2 separate regions of the Homo sapiens genome follow, and region 2 is linked to region 1. The links come from fine-mapping of genetic effects on gene expression. A gene starts in region 1. The other region holds a variant in brackets. All regions are shown on one strand. Distances are from middle to middle.

Region 1 (5,377 bases):
CTGTCTCAAAACAAACAAAACAAAACAAAAACACTAAAAGGAAGAGACTTAGAACTCTCTTCCTGCATAGAAACTTCTCAAATTAAATACCGCAGTACTTCAGGAAGAGGAGTTTTTAATTTACCCCACAGAATCAGACTCTCAGTGTAGGAAGACAGCTTAAAAATCATGTGACCATCCTATCATTTGTGCTGCTCAGTAAGGTAACATTTAGCTACATGTGACTGTTGAGCACTTGAAATGTGGCTTCTCCAAACTGAGATGTGCTGTAAGTATAAAATACCAGATTTTATAGATTTAGTATCAAATAATGTAAAATATCTCATTTTAAAAATTGATTTCATGTTAAAATAACATATATAAGATTAAATAAAATATACTACTAAAATTTTACCTGTTTCTTTTTACTTTCTTAATACCACTACTAGAAAATTTTAAATTACTTATATGGCTTGCATTGTATTTCTATTGAAGACTGCTGCTACAGACCTACAGCCTTAATTCTAACAGCAAGCAAGGACTATCACTTGGCATTTCCCAATTACAGTTGTCATTTAAAAGCCAAAAGAGGCTGGGTGTGGTGGCTCATGCCTGTAATACCAGTGTTTTGGGAGGCTGAGGTGGGAGGATTGCATGAGGCCAGGAATTTGAGACCAGCCTGGGCAACATAGCAAAACTCCGCCTTCACAAATAAATAAATATATTTAAATGTAAAAAGCAAGAAAAAAAGTATTTTAAAGGCGTGGTGGCTCACGCCTGTAATCCCAGCACTTTGAGAGGTGGAGGTCGGAGGATCACCTGAGGTCAAGACCACCCTGGCCAACATGGCGAAACTCCGTCTCTACTAAAAATACAAAAATTAGCTGGACATAGTAGCAGGAGCCTGTAATCCCAGCTACTCGGGAGGCTGAAGCAGGAGAAACTGCTTGAACCCGAAAAGCGGAGGTTGCAGTGAACCGAGATGGCACCAGCCTAGGCGACAGAGTAGACTCCATCTCAAAATTACTTCAAAAAGGCAAAAACAGCATAGGATAGAAAACCACACTTCTTAAGAAAAAAGATGGGAAATACTGCACACTAATCAAGTTTTTCTAATAAAGTATGTCTAAATCCTGATCATAAAGTTCATCTTTAAGGTGAAATCAACATTCTCAGCACCTGGGACCTCAGAAAAAAAATAAGATGTACAAAAATCTCTTATTATTCAAGTACCTTCAATTACAAACAAGTGAACCATCAACACTGTAAAAAGGGAATATTATAATGTAATTCTCTTTCCCAAAACCAAGAGAAAATAATAACACTCAAAAGCAAAATAAAAAATGACATCAGTTTTTCTAGGACTCAGTAGGCTAACTTTGGTCCACAAACATTATGAAATAAGACAGTGCATTTTAAAATAACTGTTTTGTTTTTAACCACAATGTGTTTATTTTTCTTTTTCTCTTTTTCTTTCTTTCTTTTTTTTTAAGGAGACAGAGTCTATGTTGCCCAGTCTGGCTTCGAACTCCCGGCAGCAAGTGATCCTCCCACCTTGGCCTCCCAAAGTGCTGGGATTACAGGCATGAACTACCATACCCAGCCACCACAGTGTTTTTTTTAAAAAGTCAGAAATTCAACGACACATTTCTATGAGTGAACCATGAAGACATAATTCTATTTTATCTGATTTAAAAATATTTAGGACTCCAGGTCCTGGAGGGGGAAAAAAGTGTATTTCTGAATCTATGAAAATGTTTTTTAAGGGGAGAGGGGGAGGCAGCTCAGTAATGGAGAGAGGTTCAGAGGATGCAAAGTCACCTCTAGAAAATTGTCAGTGAGAAAACTGTACGAAAAAAGAATTTAAGCAAATTAAGACCAATGAGTGAGTCCCCACAGTTTGCACAACAGTTGATGAGATATTTTCTATGATGTCCTAACAAATTTATAATACACAAAAGGTCATATTTAGTTGTCAATTCTTTATCCGCTTGAGCTTCATCAGATGAGTATAATCTTCAGACTATTTGCTGGGTGATACATTCCTTAGGAACCTTTTCCTCGTGCATTTAAATGCCAAACTCAATTACACTCTCAGTAGAGTAAGCAGAAAGGATTGTACGTATTCTAAGACACGGAGTTGATTGGCTGCCGTTTCTTGCCTTGGTGGTAAGGATAATGGGTAAAAGCTCTAAGTTTGATCCTGAAACACGGAAAACACTCTCAAAGAACCGTGTCTTCTAACATTGCCCAATAGGTAAAAAAAAAAAGACTGCCAAAATTTCCATTACAGCATCCTATTTTTAGTCTTCAAAATTGGGTCTTTTAAATCGCATTCCACAGTACGATGTGTTTGACTAAGTTTACATAAGGAATACAGTAAGCATCCTAAAGTCTTAATCTTTTTAAGCTTAGAAAGGAATTGTAAGCTTTTACATCTTCATTTTTAATCTTAACTTTAAGTCTTTTAAACACACAAACTGAAAAAATTAAGGAAAATATTGGCCCAGAGAGAGGAATGGAAGGGAGACACCACGCGGTTCTTGACAACCAAAGTGGTAGTGATGGGGGGGACCAGGTGTGGGGGGGAAATGAAAACCATCCACGAGGGTGGGGAGAGCGGGCTGTGGGCCACACAACAGAAAGGAACGGAGACCGTGGAAGCCGCAGGCTCCTCCAGGAGCCGGGTGAGGAACGACTTCTGGCGCTAGTCCCCTAGGGAGGGAGAAATTGGCGCGACGCGCAGCAATAGGAGACCCACAGTAGCTGAGAAAGGAGAGGAAAACAGGCGACCTGAGAGGCGGAGGAGGTAAGGGGACCGGGCTACACCTCACCCGGAGGGCAGAGGCTGCGCGGCTGGAGGAGGACAGCGCAGGGGGAGGAGCGAGAGGCTTCCGAAAGGCTTTCCATCCCGGCCGCGAGCCGGCGGGTCCCCTGCATCCCGCTCCTCCTCTCCTCACCTGGGAATCGGAGGCGCAAGGAGGGCTACCGCTGGGCGCCGGGTCTGTTTCCAGCCCCACTCGGCGACATGGCGGCCGACGTGCTGTCACGGAGCTTGCTCGGGTCTCCCCTGGCTCCGGTGGAGGAGACACCTCTCGCCTTTCCGCCCCGCCTCCCTCTGCGCACCCCTCGCGGCTGGCCGGCTGGAGGCTGGCGGCCCGCGACCGCGGAGCATAGAGCACTGGCGGCTAGAGAGGAAGCGCAGAGCGCGGACAACCATAGAGTACGAGTCCGGACACCAGCCGGATGGTCGGTCGCTCTCCTCAACGGTCCACTCACAATCCTCGGGCGGCTGAGCCGAGGCGGAAGCGGAAGTGAGGGAGAAAAGCAGGAAGGCTCCGCTGTTCGCATGCGCAGGCTCTAGTGTTTACTTCCGCTTGACCTGGCCCGGACGCCAGAAAATGTTCCACGTGGGATACCCTGCGTGGGGTTCACTGTAGTAGCTGCACTAGGTGATTCTTGGAGCGGGCCTGAGAGACAAGGACATGTGGATCCCAGTGGTCGGGCTTCCTCGGCGGCTGAGGCTCTCCGCCTTGGCGGGCGCTGGTCGCTTTTGCATTTTAGGGTCTGAAGCGGCGACGCGAAAGCATTTGCCGGCGAGGAACCACTGTGGGCTCTCTGACTCCTCTCCGCAGCTGTGGCCCGAACCGGATTTCAGGAATCCGCCAAGGAAGGCGTCTAAGGCCAGCTTAGACTTTAAGCGTTACGTAACCGATCGGAGATTGGCTGAGACCCTGGCGCAAATCTATTTGGGAAAACCAAGTAGACCTCCACACCTACTGCTGGAGTGCAATCCAGGTGAGTCCAGCTGAATTGCATTTTCTTGGATGTTCATCATTTATTCAAACGTATTGACCCTCCTCGGGGTGCTATTTTAGATACTGGGGGGTCTTTTTTGTTGTTCTTTTGCTTTGAGACGGAGTCTCGCTGTGTTGCCAGGCTGGAGTGCAGTGGGGCGATCTCGGCTCCCTGCAACCTCCGCGTACCGGGTTCAGGCGATTCTCCTGCCTCAGCCTCCCGAGTAGCAAGAACTACAGGCGCGCGCCACCACGCCCAGCTAATTTTCTTATTTTTACTAGAGACGGGATTTCGCCGTGTTGGCCAGGATGGTCTCGATCTCTTGACCTCGTGATCCTCCCCCCTAGGTCTCCCAAAATGCTGGGATTAGAGGCGTGAGCCACTGCGCCCGTCCAGATACGGGTCTTTGTTTGAAGCTCCTTAGTTGGAGAGATTGCCCACTACATAAGCGTAGAGTCTGTATCGTTAATGACACCACAAAGTATTTCTGTAGCAGCTTGCACTTTACACAATATTTTGATAAAACATGCTCTTAGATCTTATCTCCCCAAAAGAGTTGCAAGCCTCTGCCAGCTGAAAAAATGATGTTATCTTATTCTTCCGTGCATTCCCTATAGACCATAGCAGGATGCTAAGAACACAAGATTTATAGGCTTTTTGAATGATAGTTTTTTAAAGCACCATTTCATATCACAGGGAGTCAGTTCTGTTTAGGCTTGACAATCTCTTTGATGGTTAAAGCATCCGTGTAGTCCGTGAGGAAGTGATAGGCTAGAGGCAATCTATTTTGCTGTGACTTTTTTCTTCTAAGAGGTAGTGAATCATGGTGATGAAGAGTGCAAGTTTTGACCTGGTGCGGTGGCTCACGCCTGTAATCCAGCACTTTCAGAGGCCGAGGCGAGTGGTTCCCTTGAGGTCAGGAGTTCCAGACCAGCCTGGCCAACATGGTGAAACTCCGTCTCTGCTTAAAATACAAAAATTAGCCGGGCGTGGTGGCGGGCGCCTGTAATCCCAGCTACTCGGGAGGCTGAGGCAGGAGAATCGCTTGAACCCAAGAGGCAGAGGTTGCAGTGAGCCGAGATTGCCCCACTGCACTCCAGCCTGGGTGACAGAGTGAGACTTCGTCTCAAAAAAAAAAAAAAAAGAGTGCAGGTTTTGCAGTCGCTGACAATGATTTCAAAGCCAAGCTGCATCACTTTTGACGCTGGAGTCAAATAAGTATATATAATCTCCTGTTTCCTTATATGTAAAAAGGAGAGTGACATCTACTTTGCGGATGCTGTCAGATTTAAAAACCAGGTAATAACGTGTGAAACATCTAATGAAAGTTTGGTATTGAAAGAGATTATGTTTCTTGTACAAATAAACTTTTCGTTCTGTTAATGTGCCAGGTCCTGGAATCCTGACTCAGGCATTACTTGAAGCTGGTGCCAAAGTGGTTGCGCTCGAAAGTGACAAAACTTTTATTCCACATTTGGAGGTATATTTTTAGTTTCTCAACGTATGTTATTGTTTGTTCAACTATCTGTGAGTGGTTTAAGGAAATGGAATTAAGCACACAGTGTTTTACATAGAATATCTTTTAGGGAGCCATCTCTGA
Region 2 (5,377 bases), 55 kb before region 1:
CATCAACCGAATCTTGTCACCCTGACGTCTCAGCTTTCTAATGGCATCAGTATTTCTTTGCTGATCCCCAGACTTGATTTCCAATGAGCAATCTCTGAATTAGTGACAGTAGGAATAGAGTTTAAATGTTTAATATTTCTTTGGCTTTTACTGTACGTCAAACATATGTTAAGTGCTTTTACATGCATTATCCCATTTAATCCTCTATTACTTTACAACAGGAGAAACCAAAAGCCACTTAGCTTGTGGTAGGGCCAAAGCCCATACTTTTAAACCACCACCGTATTCTCTAACCTTCTTTCCCAGGAGAGAAAAGATTGCCGTGCAATCCACTGTTCAAATGCAGTGAAAGCTGAGTGATTAGAAAGCTGCCTTGATGTTGGTGCTACTCAACAATGGTGAGTTCGTGACAGCTTAGAGGCCAGGAGTATACATTTCCTCAAAGGCATTCTTCAAGTTCGTAAAGGAGATAATACAAATTTGTAAAAGTATACATTTTCCTGAATTGGGACAAAACCTATTGAACTTTTTGTTTGTCTATTTTTAGATGGGGTCTTCCTCTGTTACCCAGGCTGGAGTGCAGTGATGGAATCACGGCTCATTGCAGCCTCAAACTCCTGGGCTCATGCAATCCTCCCACCTTAGCGTCCTGAGTAGCTGGGATTACAGGCGCACGCCACCGTGCCTGGCTACATTTTTTTTTTTTTTGTAGAGACAAGGTTTCATGATGTTGCCTAGGCTAGACTTGAACTCCTGGGCTCAAGCAATCTGCCTGCCTCGACCTCCCAGAGTGCTGCATTACAGGTATGAGCTACCGCGCCTGGCCCTATTTTCCCTTTTTTTTTGAGACAGAGTCTCACTCTGTCACCCAGGCTGGAGTGCAGTGGTGCGATCTCCGCCCACTGCAACCTCCGCCTCCTGGGTTCAAGCAATTCTTCTGCCTCAGCCTCTCGAGTAGCTGGGACTACAGGCGCGTGCCACCATGCCTGGTTAATTTTTTTGTGTGTGTATATTTTTAGAAGAGATGAGGTTTCACTGTGTTGGCCAGGCTGGTCTTGAACTTCTGACCTCACATGATCCACCCACCTCGGCCTCCCAAAGTGCTGGGATTATAGGTATGAGCCACTGTGCCCTGCCTACTTTACTTTTTATCCCATTTTCTGTTTGCCCTGAGAATACTCTTGTCTCTGATCCTAATGTAACATCATATCCGTTTTTGTTACATTAGGATTAGAGACAAATTCTGTTTAGAAATAACTCCAAGAACAGTTTTTCTATTTTATTTTCACATTGACAATTAGTCAAATTTGCTTCAGCCTCAAAGAGCATGTTTATGTAAAGCTGGGCACTTGCAGCCAGCTGCACTATTTTTTTTTCTAAATGGGTTAAAAATTAAAAATTATTCACTTCTCATTACAAAAGTAAATCACTTTCTCCATTCCCATGTACCAGTTAATTTCATTTTATGTAAAAATAAAATGCAGGCTGGGTGCAGCGGCTCGCGCCTGTTAATCCTAGCACTTTGGAAGGCCGAGGCGGGTGGATCACTTGAGGTCAGGAGTTTGAAACCAGCCTGGCCAACATGGTGAAACCCCATCTCTACTAAAATACAAAAATTAGCCAGGCGTGGTGGTGTGTGCCTGTAATTCCAGCTACTCAGGAGGCTAAGGCAGGAGAATGGCTTGAATCTGGGAGGTGGAGATTACAGTGAGCTGAGATCATGCCGCTGCACTCCAGCCTGGGCAACAGAGTGAGACTCTGTCTCTAAATAAATAAATAAATACAATACAATACAATAAAAAATAAGATGCAGCTCAAATATCTTAATTTCTTCTGAATTAGCTCTTATGTAAAAAAAAAAGTTTCCTCACCACCGGCCTAAAGGCTCCCCAGTCTCCAGCCTCTCCATCCTCTAACATCTACACCCTCTCAATCCTCAAAAGAGTTCTTCTTCTAAAATGCAAATGTGATTCAGGCACTCTTAGAATTAAAAATTCCCAGTCCCTAAAAATAAAGTCTCAATGTCACCAGCTATTCAATCTCACCTCCTCTTTTAACATCTTCATCTCCAATAATATCCCAGCCACGGCTTTCACAGGCTGATCTCTTCCTGGACCAGCTCATTCTGTTAACCCACTGAGCGCCTAATAAGCCTGGAAAACCCAGCTCAAGAGTCGCCTTCTGTTCCCAAGTGTCCACAGGGCAGAATGAATCACTCATTTTGTGCTGCTGAATCTTTAACATATGTTTACTCTAACACTGAACACAAAATTCCACACTTACTTATCGATAGAACCGTTGCTCCTGTTCTGCAGGGGCTCTCTTACGGGCATATTCTGCCAAGTAATCTCTGTTTACCCATGTCCAGCAGGGTCTTTGGTGCCTGGTAGATGCTTATCAAACTCTTACACAGCTTTATCACTGATTTAAAAAGTGAACCATTGTTTAAACTATGGATTAGCCAAGGCCAAGATGTGGCCATCAATTAGTAATATGCCAAATATCCCACGAGGGTCACCCTCCCCCGGGCTCACCAGTGATGAGTGGGACACAGTCAATTTTACAGAGATTGCATTTTATTTTTTATTTTTATATTTATTTATGTATTTAGAGACAGGTTCTCTCACTCTGTCTCCCAGGCTGGAGTGCAGTGGTGCAATGTCAGCTCAATGCAACCTTTGCCTCCCAGGCTTGAGTGATCGTCCCACCTTGGCCTCCCAAGTAGCTGGGACTACAGGTGTGCACCACCATGCCCGGCTAATTTTTGTATATTTTGTAGAGATGGGGTTTCGCCA[T/G]GTTGCCCAGGCTGGTCTTGAACTCCTGAGCTCAAGCCATCCACCCACCTCAGCCTCCCAAAATGCTGGGATTACAGGCATGAGCCACTGCGCCCAGCCAAGACAGCATTTTAGATCATTCCAAACACTGCTAGGGGAATTTTCGTGAGGCTGAAAGTGAAGGGTTTACCAGAGTACCTGATGAAGGCAAAGGGGAAGTGCTCTTGAATCCAACTGCTCAACTTCACCTCGTATAAGTGAAAACAGAGACTGCAGAACAAGCTTTGGCGCCTCTGGCTGCTCATTAGCATTTACTTCAGCAGCTTCTTCATCATCAACAGCATATGTGACTGCGCTTAGTACTTTTTCTTGCATTAAAGGTGCAATATCTCCTGAAAAAAGTCCTTTAAGAAGTAAAGAAAATGCCTATGTTAGGATCAATTCCCATGATGGTGTAACACATTAAAACAATTACATATAGTTTGATGCCCTGGCTTGCCCAAACTAAAACAGACCTGAACAGGAAGGTAAATGTGTTTATCATATGAAACCACTAAAGAAGTTGAGTCTTTCTGATTAAACTCTGTCTGATAACATCAGAAATACTTCTAGATGCTAGGAGAGTAGCAGGAATTCAGATGCCAGAGCTAATGGCTAGTCAAATGTTTTTCCTAATAAAAAGAAGTAACACAAACTTCTCAAAAATCACTAATAAATAAATGCTTAACTAACAGCTACTGAAATACACCAAATTTTAAACACTGTTATAAATTATAACTTCACCCTTCACTGAAATCTCAGTGTCAGTTTTAATATTCATGTTCAAATTTAATAGACTATCTGCCTATGTGCATACCTTTAGCTAGACTGCCTCAGAAAGGAACTTCTTCAGTAATACCGTGTGTATGCACGACTGAAGCCATCCTCCCTGTAGTGCCCAGAGCCCATAGTGTGTACGCATGACTGAAGCCATCCTCCCTGTAGAGTGTGCCCAGAGCCCGTCGTGTGTATGCACGACTGAAGCCGTCTTCCCTGTAGAGTGTGCCCAGAGCCCATCGTGTGTATGCATGACTGAAGCTGTCCTCCCTGTAGTGTTCCCAGAGCCCATCGTGTGTATGCACCACGACTGAAGCCGTCCTCCCTGTAGTGTTCCCAGAGCCCATCGTGTGTATGCACGACTGAAGCCGTCCTCCCTGTAGAGTGTTCCCAGAGCCCATCGTGTGTATGCACGACTGAAGCCGTCCTCCCTGTAGTGTGCCCAGAGCCCATCGTGTGTATGCACCACGATGAAGCCGTCCTCCCTGTAGTGTTCCCAGAGCCCATCGTGTGTATGCACCACGATGAAGCCGTCCTCCCTGTAGTGTTCCCAGAGCCCATCGTGTGTATGCACGACTGAAGCCGTCCTCCCTGTAGAGTGTGCCCAGAGCCCATCGTGTGTATGCACGACTGAAGCCGTCCTCCCTGTAGAGTGTTCCCAGAGCCCATCGTGTGTATGCACGACTGAAGCCGTCCTCCCTGTAGTGTTCCCAGAGCCCATCGTGTGTATGCACGACTGAAGCCGTCCTCCCTGTAGAGTGTTCCCAGAGCCCATCGTGTGTATGCACCACGATGAAGCCGTCCTCCCTGTAGTGTGCCCAGAGCCCATCGTGTGTATGCACCACGATGAAGCCGTCCTCCCTGTAGTGTTCCCAGAGCCCATCGTGTGTATGCACCACGATGAAGCCGTCCTCCCTGTAGTGTTCCCAGAGCCCATCGTGTGTATGCACGACTGAAGCCGTCCTCCCTGTAGAGTGTGCCCAGAGCCCATCGTGTGTATGCACGACTGAAGCCGTCCTCCCTGTAGAGTGTTCCCAGAGCCCATCGTGTGTATGCACGACTGAAGCCGTCCTCCCTGTAGTGTTCCCAGAGCCCATCGTGTGTATGCACGACTGAAGCCGTCCTCCCTGTAGAGTGTGCCCAGAGCCCATCGTGTGTATGCACCATGACTGAAGCCGTCCTCCCTGTAGAGTGTGCCCAGAGCCCTGCCTTCTACTGCCCTGTAGTTCATATCTTTGGATTTGAATGTGAAACCCACTGCCCTGGCCAGACTGGTCCATTCTTCATCTCCCAAAGTAAAATACTTCCTGCCTTTCTGAGCAATTACAGATCCTAACGGCTAGAATATTTTCCTCCTGTTTAAGCCTATTTATGTTCTACTCTAATAAAATCCACATCTTTCCCTATAACATGAGCTTGAAGTCAAGTTACTTTCCTCTGAACCTGGTATATGGCCTCGTATGACGCTAGGTTGCAGTACAGTAATTGGTTTAAGATGTCATCTTCTATTTCACATCAACGCTGGCAGCACAGGGGTTATTCCAGTGATACCCAGCATGGTGTCTTCAACACTACAATTCCACGTGCTGTGCTTCTTTAAAAAATCACCTACAGTGATTACTTGTATTTTAGAGAATTCTCTTCTAGACACTTTATGTTGCTATACATTTTGGCCATTAGAAGTACAAGGCCCAGTGATGGCCTGCCATTTTTTAGGGTATTTCTAAAAACAGGAGGTGATTCTTCTGCTTTCTAATTTTCTAACCACCATAGCAGCAAAACCAAAA

Direction of the effects. Positions count from the first base shown, and alleles are read on the strand shown. Sizes are in standard deviations (SD) of each study's normalised expression.
As copies of G replace T in region 2, the expression in tibial nerve of the gene that starts at base 3,147 in region 1 goes up (small effect, 0.34 SD a copy in GTEx).

Evidence for each region. PIP is the estimated chance that this variant, and not a neighbour inherited with it, causes the effect. A credible set is the group of variants that fine-mapping cannot tell apart.
Region 2: its variant is the best candidate, but not a certain one, in a credible set for the expression of CNST in tibial nerve (GTEx, PIP 0.86).

Annotation. Positions count from the first base shown.
Region 1 is chr1:246,564,226-246,569,602 of GRCh38, reverse strand. It overlaps CNST (consortin, connexin sorting protein), which reads right to left and starts at 3,147. Exons shown (of 11, transcript NM_152609.3): 1 at 2,940-3,147. TFB2M (transcription factor B2, mitochondrial) reads left to right here and starts at 3,342. Exons shown (of 8, transcript NM_022366.3): 1 at 3,342-3,777; 2 at 5,169-5,257. The coding sequence starts at 3,465. RefSeq lists enhancers at 2,543-3,042, 3,083-3,142, 3,373-3,652.
Region 2 is chr1:246,619,230-246,624,606 of GRCh38, reverse strand. It overlaps CNST (consortin, connexin sorting protein), which reads right to left. Exons shown (of 11, transcript NM_152609.3): 3 at 2,973-3,178. Among named protein-coding and RNA genes, the nearest start is that of CNST, 55 kb to the right of the region's middle. The variant T/G (reference allele first, on the strand shown) is at 2,796.